Linked DNA regions of Homo sapiens: region 1 is linked to region 2. Evidence: fine-mapped expression QTL. A gene starts in region 2. The other region holds a variant in brackets. All regions are shown on one strand. Distances are between the middles of the regions. Region 1 overlaps TM9SF4 (transmembrane 9 superfamily member 4). Region 2 holds the start of POFUT1 (protein O-fucosyltransferase 1).

Region 1 (5,370 bases), 67 kb before region 2:
CAAGACCAGCCTGGCCAACATACTAAAATACAAAATTTAAAAAAATTTGTAAATTTGTAAATCTCTACTAAAAATACAAAAATTAGCCAGGCATGGTGGTGCACGCCTGTTATCCCAGCTACTTGGGAGGCTAAGGCAGGAGGATCGCTTCAACCCAGGAGGCAGAGGTTGCAGTGAGCTGAGATTGCGCCATTGCGCTCCAGCCTGAGCAACAGAGCAAGACTCTATCTCAAAAACAAAACAAAAACAAGAAATAGAAATGAGCCATTTCCTGACCATTATGTCCCCTTTCTTGGCTAAACTTAATTTTTAAATATCAAGAAGCGATTCCACTGTACTTGGTCTGCAGCCCTGTTCCTCTCTGTAGCTCTTTCTCTCCTCAAGCAAGATCCTCATTGACAGGAGATGAAATAGGCAGTAGGAAATGGTATAGAGGAAAGAGGCCAGGGATTTAGCATTACCACCACCCCCTCATATCACCACGAGCAGGTCTCTGATCCTCAGCTTGTCATCTATAAAATGCCATTTCAGCAGTGGGCTCTGCAGATATCTTACTGTGTCCTCGCTCTTCACTGGCCAATCCATCCCTGGGTTTTGCAGACTCACCTGCATTGCCAGCCTTCCAAAACAGGGTGGAGGGGTGAGGCCTTCATCCATGCCCTTCCTCAATCTCTCCCTCTCCTGAGTGCCTCCTCCACACTGAAAGCATTGCTTGCCAGGGCCGCTACTTTGCACAGCAGAGTGCTGGCGCCTACAGCGGTGTAGCTCGCGGCCCTGCCATTTACCATCTGTGGGCCGATAACCCCCAACTTCCATCTGTGCCCTGACCTCTCCTCTGCGCCTCAGATCTTGATATCTAAGTGCCCACTTGATATATCCAAACTGAAAATGCCTTCGATGTAAATTTGCTGTTCTTCCTATTTTCCCACCTAGAACCTGGTTGTAGAAACCTCAGAGTCTTCCTAATATGCACCATCCCTCACTCATGCCTTGTTTACAGTCAGCACTGCTTCCCCTGGATTTCACCTCCTTGGAGCTCCTGAATCTGTGTACTCTTCTCTACCCTCACCAGCACCTGTTCCAGTCACCGGTGTCACTCATGCATGACTGACTGCCATCACTGCCCCCCACCACCACCACTGCTCACCGCCAGTTCCTTGCATCCTCTGTTTTCTTCACAAAACAGCCAGAATGATCTTTCTGGAACCAGACTCAGATAACGTCTTTCTCTACCCCTGTTAGAAACCTTCATTGGATTTTGTTGCTTTCTAGGTCAAACTGGTCAAGATCAAACTGTGTGTCCCACAGGCCCCCTGAGTACTGGCCCATCTCTGCAGCTCATCTGAGCCTTCTGCACTGTAGCCACACAGGCCTTTCAGGTTCAGTGCCTCCCCCACCCCAAAGGGGCCTTTGCACATGCTGTCCTGTCTGGAATATTCTCCTATTTCTTTGCTCAGTTAACATCTCTCTTCCTTTCAAGTACCCCTTCCTCAGGGAAGCTGTCCTAGACCCACTCCCCTGTGTCTGCAGCAAGTTATATATTCTCATTTTGCTGATTATTCAGCAAAGTCTATCTTCCTGCTAGGCCATGCACTCTATGAGTACATCTATTCAACTTTGCATCTTTAGGGCTTGGCATGTAGCCAGTACCCAGTACATGTTCACGGATGAATGAATGAATGACTAGATGACTAGGGAGAGTGCCCTGTCGAGCAGATCCACACTGGAGGAAAAGTGCGAGACCAAGTGCATGTGGAGGTGTTAATTAGTCTTCATCTTGTCCATCAATTGTTGAACAGCTCAGAATGAAAGCACCATGGGGTTTGCTTGATAGTCCCTAACTGCTCAGTGCCTGTTAGGGTGACATCTGGCAGCAGTTACTCTGAGGCAAAAGGCACACAAGGGGTGCCACTTCATTGAGTCAAAAGACGTTTTGCCTGAAAATCTCAGGTGCTGGATTTCACCCCACTCCCCTCCCTGCTGGAACCAGGATCTGAAGACACAGAGATAAATAGGAAACAGTCTTAACAGTAACGAGCTCATAGTCAGGTAGGGGAGCCAGAAACATGACTGTATCAGCACATTGTGCAAAGTAAATCCTTGACATAGGAACGGATGCTGATGATAAAAGAGCGTTTGATGCCTGCCTACTCTGTGCCTGCTACTTTATTGGATTGACTTCCTTTATTTCTCACTGTAACCCTGTGAGGTGGATACTGTTATTATCCCATTTTATGGATGAGGACATTGAGGCTCAGTGAGATGGAGTGACTTACCAAGACTGCTAAGGCAGGCAGCCGAGAGTCAGAGTCATCCCTCCACTGCATAATGCTGCCCTCACACAGGGCAGTCAGGGGAGGGAGTGATGGGCTTGTCCTGAAGGGGTTAGGGAGGGCTTCCCAGAGAGAGTGAAATGGAAACTGGGCTTCTGGGGAGGCCAGGAGCATGGGGCAGGGAACTCTAGGAGAAGGAAGCGACTGAGGCCCAGAGGCATAGAAGGATGTGATGCTTGGCTGGGCGCGGTGGCTCACACCTGTAATCTAGCACTTTGGGAGGCTGAGATGGGCAGATCATGAGGTCAGGATATCGAGACCATCCTGGCTAACAGGGTGAAACCCCGTCTCTACTAAAAATACAAAAAATTAGCCGGGCGTGGTGGCATGCACCTGTAGTCCCAACTACTCGGGAGGCTGAGGCAGGAGAATGGCCTGAACCCAGGAGGCAGAGTTCACAGTGAGC[T/C]GAGATCGTGCCACTGCACTCCAGCCTGGGTGACAGAGCGAGACTCCATCTCAAAAAAAAAAAAAAAAAAAAAAAAAGGATGTGATGCTTGATGAGTGCTGAGTGCTAAGGGGTCTGGTAGCACTAGAGCCCAAAGGAGGAGGGTGGCAGGTCGAGGTTAGCTGGGACCGTTGGGCGTGAAGCAATGGGAAGGGCATTGGCTGCCAGGCTGAGGCACTGCTGAAGTCCTTGAAAGCCCATGTTTGCCCCGCAGTCCTGTGTCTCTGTGACTCTGCTGACCTCAGCAACCTCAGGGCTGAAGCTCTGAGCTTGATCTGTCTCTCTTACGGCAGGAGAGGTGCTGAGAGGGGACCGGATTGTCAACACCCCTTTCCAGGTTCTCATGAACAGCGAGAAGAAGTGTGAAGTTCTGTGCAGCCAGTCCAACAAGCCAGTGACCCTGACAGTGGAGCAGAGCCGACTCGTGGCCGAGCGGATCACAGAAGACTACTACGTCCACCTGTAAGTCGCCCTGTGCTCCTTGCTGCCTCAGGCTCACACAGGGGAGGACACTGACGGGAGAGGCGGTCGAGAGGGACTGAGTGGGGCCTTCACTTTCCAGCATTGCTGACAACCTGCCTGTGGCCACCCGGCTGGAGCTCTACTCCAACCGAGACAGCGATGACAAGAAGAAGGAAAAAGATGTGCAGTTTGAACACGGCTACCGGCTCGGCTTCACAGATGTCAACAAGGTAGAGTGTCTTTGGCGTGCTCACAGGACCGGGAGCCACACCTCACGAGTCCTGAGCACTTGGGGCCACAGAAAAGGTGGGGCTCGGCCACAGCAAGTTTCTCCAGGTGCCCTGGGCATGATGGTCTGTCAGAGGTCCGAGTGCTCCGGGCAAGTCCCTGGGAGGTGCTACAGGGAGGTGAAGCCACAATTCTTAGGAAGTTAGGTTCCATTTTTGTAAGATTAAAACAACATAAAAAAAAAAACCGTGGAACTTCATCAGTATGTAGGAGAGAGGGCTAAGTAGTGGTCAAGAGCGTGCAGGCTCCCTGGGTTTGAATCCTTCCTCTCCCAGTTACTAGTTGTCTAAGTGACCCTGAGCCTGTGGTTCCTTAGCTGTAAAATGTATGCAGCAGCAGTGGCGGGGTAAATTAGCACATTCGTGTGAGCCCTTCCCAGCACAGCCCTGGAGAATCAGCTAATAATGTGATGATTATAGCCCTGATTCTCTTATCTTTCTTTCTAAACTGAAAGATATTAGTTAGGGAATAAATTACAAAAGTATGTGTTTTGAGGTGCAGCCCCTGTCCCCAAAGGGCGTCTGTCCTAACTGGGAAGAGAACCGACAGTGGGAGGCTCTAAGTCTCCAGTCCCAGCTGCCTTTCACTGGCCATTAATTGCAGGCGAGGTCAGAGGGAGCTCCTTTTACACTCAGGTTGTCACAGAGGAGGTGGGCCATGAGAAGTTGGTGGGCTTTTGCTGAGTGGAGTTGGGGGTGGCATTCTAGTTGGAGTGATTGCAGGGTAGAGACTGGTTCATGGGGCGGTGGGCACAGGGGAGTCTAGGTGAACTCATGTGACTTAGATGATTACACCCAGTTGTATCAGGGTCAGATGATAGAAGGCCTTGAATGCCAGACTTTGAGAAATGGGCTTTTGTCTGATAAGCTGCAGGGAGCCCTTGAAGAGCTTCTGAGTAGGGGAGTGATGAGAACAGTGTTTTAGGAAGGTTGGTACAACCAGGCATGCTGGGTGAGGCAAGGGCCCTAATACCTGGAGAGTATCCCTAAGTGATGTTCTGTTGTGCTTTCTCTGTTGCTGTGTTTCAGATCTACCTGCACAACCACCTCTCATTCATCCTTTACTATCATCGGGAGGACATGGAAGAGGACCAGGAGCACACGTACCGTGTCGTCCGCTTCGAGGTGATTCCCCAGAGCATCAGGCTGGAGGGTGAGTGGGGAGGTGTGGCCGGAGGGGCAGGGCTGGATGGGCCTGGGCTTCTCCACGCAGGGTCTTCGCACTCTTCTCCCTCCTGAGCTGGCCGATGGGCTCGGGTGTGGCGTGTGGGCCCAGCCAAGGTAGGATCATGGTATTCTCATTAGAGAAGACGGGGTGTGGGGGCAGCTGACAGCTGCAGTGTCACGGGCTAGACACCTTACTAGTTTACCCCTTCCCAGCAACCCCAGGAGGTACGTGATGATTACAAAGGAAGAACTAGAGGCTCAAAAGGAGCTAGTGACTTGGCCAAGACCAAACAGCAAGTTGGGGCTTTGTTGGGCCTCCTCACAAGAACCAGCCAGCTCACCCTGGGTTGAGAACAAGGGGCCAGGGTACAGACAAAGCCTGTAGGCAGCAGGTTTCTTCGTTCCTCTCCCGCTGTGTGAGTGATTGGCATAAACTAAAATTTGCCCAGGGTCAACAGGTGTGCGGGAGTTTGAGAGTCCAGCACAGTCCTGATGGGCCTCACAGGAGCTGGTCCGGCTTTGCCTCACCTCTTGGCCCTTGATCATCACAGTGTGCTTTTTAATTAAGCAGCATGCCCAGGATTTTGACCATGTTGGTGGTATTTGGACTTTTTTTTTTTTTCCACTGTGGAACTTAGTGTTCAAACAAAATTAGACACAGAAGTCCCAAACATAG
Region 2 (5,370 bases):
CTGTATGGTCCTCTTTGAAAGCTGAAACTGAGACATATTTCTCCCCAGTCTGTCCGTCCCCTGTTATGGGCCATGATGCCTGCTGCTCTCTGATGAAACTATAGTTTTTATGGTGTTACATCATCTCTATAGAAACTGCGTTCTTTCTCCATTATTAGCCTGTTTCCTCATCTGTAAAGCTAAAAATACTTACCTCACAGGCTTGCTGTAAGGATTATTTTAGTGAGGTATGCAAAGGGCTCAGCACAGAGCTTGGCCTGCTAGAAGTACCCAACAAAAGAGAGCTATTATCTTTGTCTTTGTATTGAGTTGCATGTTTCCACCTTCTGCTGCCACACTCAAATTCTCCTCACTCCCCCCTAAAAAACAGTTGAGAGATAACACCCCTGCACAAGGAAAGGGTTAATCTTTGAGTGTTCTTAACTAAAGAGACCCACAGAGGATTAACAGCTCCACTTCAGTGACTACCCTAAAATAGCTTTTATCCTCCTGCCCAAGAGTTACTTGGGGATCTGAAGAACTCAATTCAACACCTGCCGGAGGAAATAGACCCAGAACGTTCCTTGGGATAGAATCTTCCCTTAAGCAGAACCCAAAATAGCAACTGGGAAATTATAAATAGACTTAGAGGAAAGAAAAAACAAAACAAAACAAAACAAAAAACAGATCCTGATCTCAGAACCAGAAACAAATCCTAAAACACACTGGTTGGCTGGAAAACAGTGAGAAGAGGGGAAATGGGAATGCTGTCGCCCCCTTCCCCCCCGCCCACTCCAGAGTGGTGGGAGAATTAAATTACAGGGAGGCTGGAGAGTCTCAATGACTTGCACCATTCCAAGAAACATCAAACAGGATTAACAGGGGTTGGATTTACTCTCAGGCTGCTAATTCTTCTGTCAGTGTAGATGGGCCCTCTTTGGAGTCTCTTTGATTCACTATTTCCTCAGATTCCTGCTGCCTCCCACTCCTGGGGAGGCCTTGAACAAATGGCTGCAACTCATCACAACCCCATTTTCATGGGGAGAAAACGTGATTCGACACCCCCGCTCCCAATCTGGTGGCCTCACCTTAGGAGAGAAAGGTTAGAAACCCAAGACCAGACTCTACACACAGTCCCATGGCTGACAGGTGGAAAAACACACAAGCCAGGAGACAGGCTAAGCTTGCAGGTGAAAGCACCGATTCCCCCACACAGGTGTCCCCATATCCTCCACCTAACAGGCCCCTTTCTCCCCACCAAGGTGGGCCACAGCCTGGTCCCAGGCCAACTTTTAGATCACCCCACTGTGGTGTGGGAAAGGTTCAATTCCCCGAGCCTGGGAGAGATGGGAGTGGATGAGGGCTGGAGAAGCAAAGGAAATCCAGGGAGAAGTCTGGAGGGAGTCTCTGGGATGGGAAGGAAGAGCGAGGATGGGAAGGAATCATGAGCAACTTTCCTGGGTCTCTAAGGGATCCCCACAAGAATGAAATGGGGGATTATAAGGGCTGGAAGGCTGGGGGGATGGGGATAGTCAGAAGTGTATCCTCTGAATTTCAAGAGGGTCTCAAAATGGGTAACGGGATGGAAGATGTCGAAAGCCTGGGAGTATGGCCACTGAGGAGGGAACTACAGGTGGGGCTTATTCGACTTCTCCAGACCCAGATATTTGAGGGAAGCCTCAAAGGGAGTTATGTAAGTCTGGAAAATGAAACAGGGTACAGAGCGGGCTATCTGGAGCAGGAAAGGGGGTTATGTGGGTCTGGGTAGGCGTGTCGGAGGGAGGGAGCAGGTGCAGCTTATCTGCGTCCCCCAGACCCGGGTCCCTGGTAAGGTCAGCAGCGCCTTATCTGGGTCTCCAGGGAGCCTAGGGGTCGGGAATGGGGGACCCTCAGGACTGCGTCTCCAGGTCTCGGAAGGGAGGGGACCGGTGGCTTCCTCGGGTCCCCCAGACACAGGTATGGGGTCCAGGGAGAGTTTTCGTCACCCCAGGGCCTATCTGGGGCCGGGTTGGCGCAGACCGGGCCCCGGGTCGGGGGTGTGGGCGACCGCGCTGAGGGGCCCGAGATGAGGCGCGCCGCCGCTCCGGGTACAGGGCGCGCGGACGCAGCGAGACGGCCTCCCGCCCCTCTCCCCGCCGTCCCCTGGGGCCCTCGCCGGCACTCACCGCGCTCGGGGCCCCACGCTGCGGGCCGGGCCGCGCTCGGGCTCCGCCAGGCCCCCTCAGGCCCCGGTAGTGGCGGCGGTCGGGCCATTGTGCGGTGCATTGTGGGAGCCGCGCGAGCGGGCGCTCGGGTCGTGGAGGGGGCGGTGCCGCGGGATCTCTATGGTCCCGCCCGCCCGCGGGCTAGAGCGGCCGGGGCGGTGCGCGGGCGGCGCGCAGGGACCGCTGGGAGCGGGGCGGGCGCTCGCGTCCCTCCTTCCCTCCCCGACTGTGCGCCGCGGCTGGCTCGGGTTCCCGGGCCGACATGGGCGCCGCCGCGTGGGCACGGCCGCTGAGCGTGTCTTTCCTGCTGCTGCTTCTGCCGCTCCCGGGGATGCCTGCGGGCTCCTGGGACCCGGCCGGTTACCTGCTCTACTGCCCCTGCATGGGTAAGGCCTCCCAAGCCCTCTGCTCAGATGGAGAAACTGAGGCCGGGAGAGGAAAAGCCACTCCTCAGATGCGCCCAGAGACACCTTCACAGGTCCAGGAGAGAACCTCAGAGCGGGACGGGGCATGCTCTTCTCCTCTCTGCCTTAGTTGCAAGGGCACAGAGGGGCCAACGTGTCCAACTTTCCATTTGACAGATGAGAAAACTGAGGCTGGGAGAGGTTACGTGACTTGCTTGAGGTCTAAGCCAGTCCAGGGTCCAGTAAATGGAGTTAGTGGGGCAGGACTTGATGTCACTGACCCACGCTGGCTCCTGGTGATTTTTCATTGATTCAGCAAATATTTATGGGGCACCTATTCTGTGCCGGGCCCTGTTCTCTGTACTGGGAATACCGCAGTGAATAAGATAAACTCCGTGTCCTTGTAGAGCCTTCATTTTAGTTGGGGAAGACAAACAATTGAGAATAAGTAGGCCAGGCGCGGTGGCTCACTTCTGTAATCCCACCACTTTGAGAGACCGAGGCAGGATCACTTGAAGCCAGGAGCTCGAGATCAGCCTAGGCAACATAGTGAAAATCCAATCTCAAAAAAAAAAAAAAAAAAAAAAAGCAGAGCGTGGTATCGTGTGCTTGTAGTCCCTTGGGAGTTATCTGGGCGGCTACTTGGGAGGCTGAGGTGGGAGGATCTCTTGAGCCGAGGAATTCGAGGCTGCAGTGAGCTCTGATCGTGCCACCGCACTGCCAGCCTGGGTGACAGAGTGAGACCCTGTCTCGAAACAAGCAAACCCAAAAAGGGGTAAACATAAAACAATAAATACATAGTTTCATAGAGGATGATGAATACTAAGGGAAAATAAAGAGAGCAGGGTAGGGGAGAATCTAAAGACCATGCCAGGTGCACAGTTGAAATGGGTATGGTGGATCATCATTGTGGAAGTGGATGATCTTAAGGCCCCCAGTGGCTTCCAGACTCCTGACCATGACTTTCAGGGCCCTGAATGATGTGGCCTCCACTGGCCATCTCCACAACTCCCTTCTCTGCTGATCCTCCAGCTGCAGCCACACTTAACTCCTTTGCGTTCCTCACACATGCTCAGGTCTTCCAGTCTGCACTGCTGCAGGTGGCGGTCCCTATGCCTGGAATCCTCTCCTCCATTTCTGCCTGACCAGCTGTTTCCCATCCTTTAGATCTCAGCCTAAATGTCACCAGAAAGGATTTCACTGACCTCTACCCAAGTAATCTCCTCATTACCCTATCACCAAACTTTTTTCATCTCTTTCTGGCAATTATCAACATTTTTCATGTATTTGTTTACATGTTTAGTGTCTCTGCAGTGAACTGTGAGTGCCTTAGGGGCAGAGGCCTTGTCCTTCTTGTTCATTCCTGTATCCCAGCACCTAGCACAGAGTCTGGCACATTGTGGCCTCTCAATCATATTTGTGAAATGAATGAACAGGTGCCATGCTGGGATTAAGAAAAGGAATCACACAGGGTCCTTGCTTCTGAGGCATTCACAGGCTGAGGAATCAGCCAGTACGAAGGCCAGGAAGTGAGCAAAGATACTTGAGGAAAATTGAAGAACTGAAGTAGCTCAGAGCCAAGGTGGGAGGTAAAGGAGGGAGAGTGAGTATGGCAGGGGATTGGTGAAAGGAGCCCAGTGAATGAGGCATTCGAGTTGCCCGTCCATGTGCAGGTGAATGGAGATAGAGGTAGAAGCTCTTCTGGCTGAGGGACAGCAAGATCAGAGGCATTGGGTGGGGATGGGAATTGTAGAGCATGTTGGGGAAACAGCAAGAAACCTGGAGTGGCGGAAGCAGTTGTTGCAGGACCTGAAGAGCCTTGGATATCAGACCCAAGAGTCCAGACTTGTTCTTATGCTGCCAGCTCCCCTAGTTCTCCTTGGTATCCCTGACTTTCTACCCCTGGCTCCACAACCTTTCTGAGCCCTGCATGCTCTATGCCCTCCATGCCCCAGGCCTCACCTCACCCGCAATGTACCATTTCCAGGGCGCTTTGGGAACCAGGCCGATCACTTCTTGGGCTCTCTGGCATTTGCAAAGCTGCTAAACCGTACCTTGGCTGTCCCTCCTTGGATTGAGTACCAGCATCACAAGCCTCCTTTCACCAACGTGAGTACTTCCCACTGACCTTGGCCTTTCTCCGCCCTTTCTCAGTCTTGCTTACTTACACTTAACCCTCAAGTCCTCTGGGCTTTACCTCCCACTCCTCTGAGATTTCCCTACCTCCAGCCAGAACTGTCTTCACTGCAATAACAATGCCTAACATTTATTTATCCAGCACCTGTTGTGTGCGGCTGCATGAGAATTAGCTCATTTCACCCTCATCACTTGCCTGTGAGGAAACCGGGGTTTACAGAGGTTAGGTAACTTGCCCAAGATCACACAGCCTGTGAGTAGGAGAGCTGGAATTCAAAGCTATCTTTGTCTGACTCCAGAGCCTGTGACTTGAACCTAAAGCCTCCATTTCCTTCCCTGATTGGTCCTACCCTCTGTGCATTCCATTGGCCAAGGGTGGCAGATGCTATTATCAATTTTAAAGGAGACATGCAGGCACAGGTTATTTAATGACATGTCCAAGGCCACAACCCAGGTAGTCTGGCTTCAGTGCTGCCTCTCACCCCATCAAGGGGCTCCCTTGTCATGCGATGCTCACCGGCCCCCAGTTCCTTGCTTATTCTTTGTGTCTTCCAGTGACCTTGTGTCGTTGTTCATATTGTATCTCCCGGAGCCTGGCAGTAGGAACTTAATTAGTATTTGATGAATTGACTTAATAATTTTCCAAT

What was found. PIP is the estimated chance that this variant, and not a neighbour inherited with it, causes the effect.
Region 1: its variant is the best candidate, but not a certain one, in a credible set for the expression of POFUT1 in whole blood (INTERVAL, PIP 0.58).

The regions. Positions count from the first base shown.
Region 1 is chr20:32,138,426-32,143,795 of GRCh38, forward strand. TM9SF4 (transmembrane 9 superfamily member 4) reads left to right here. Exons shown (of 18, transcript NM_014742.4): 4 at 3,072-3,240; 5 at 3,341-3,470; 6 at 4,557-4,680. Among named protein-coding and RNA genes, the nearest start is that of TM9SF4, 31 kb to the left of the region's middle. The variant T/C (reference allele first, on the strand shown) is at 2,740.
Region 2 is chr20:32,205,497-32,210,866 of GRCh38, forward strand. It overlaps POFUT1 (protein O-fucosyltransferase 1), which reads left to right and starts at 2,384. Exons shown (of 7, transcript NM_015352.2): 1 at 2,384-2,569; 2 at 4,575-4,696. The coding sequence starts at 2,446. It overlaps PLAGL2 (PLAG1 like zinc finger 2), which reads right to left and starts at 2,247. Exons shown (of 3, transcript NM_002657.3): 1 at 2,145-2,247. RefSeq lists enhancers at 253-302, 2,218-3,131, 2,594-2,723 and a silencer at 2,034-2,453.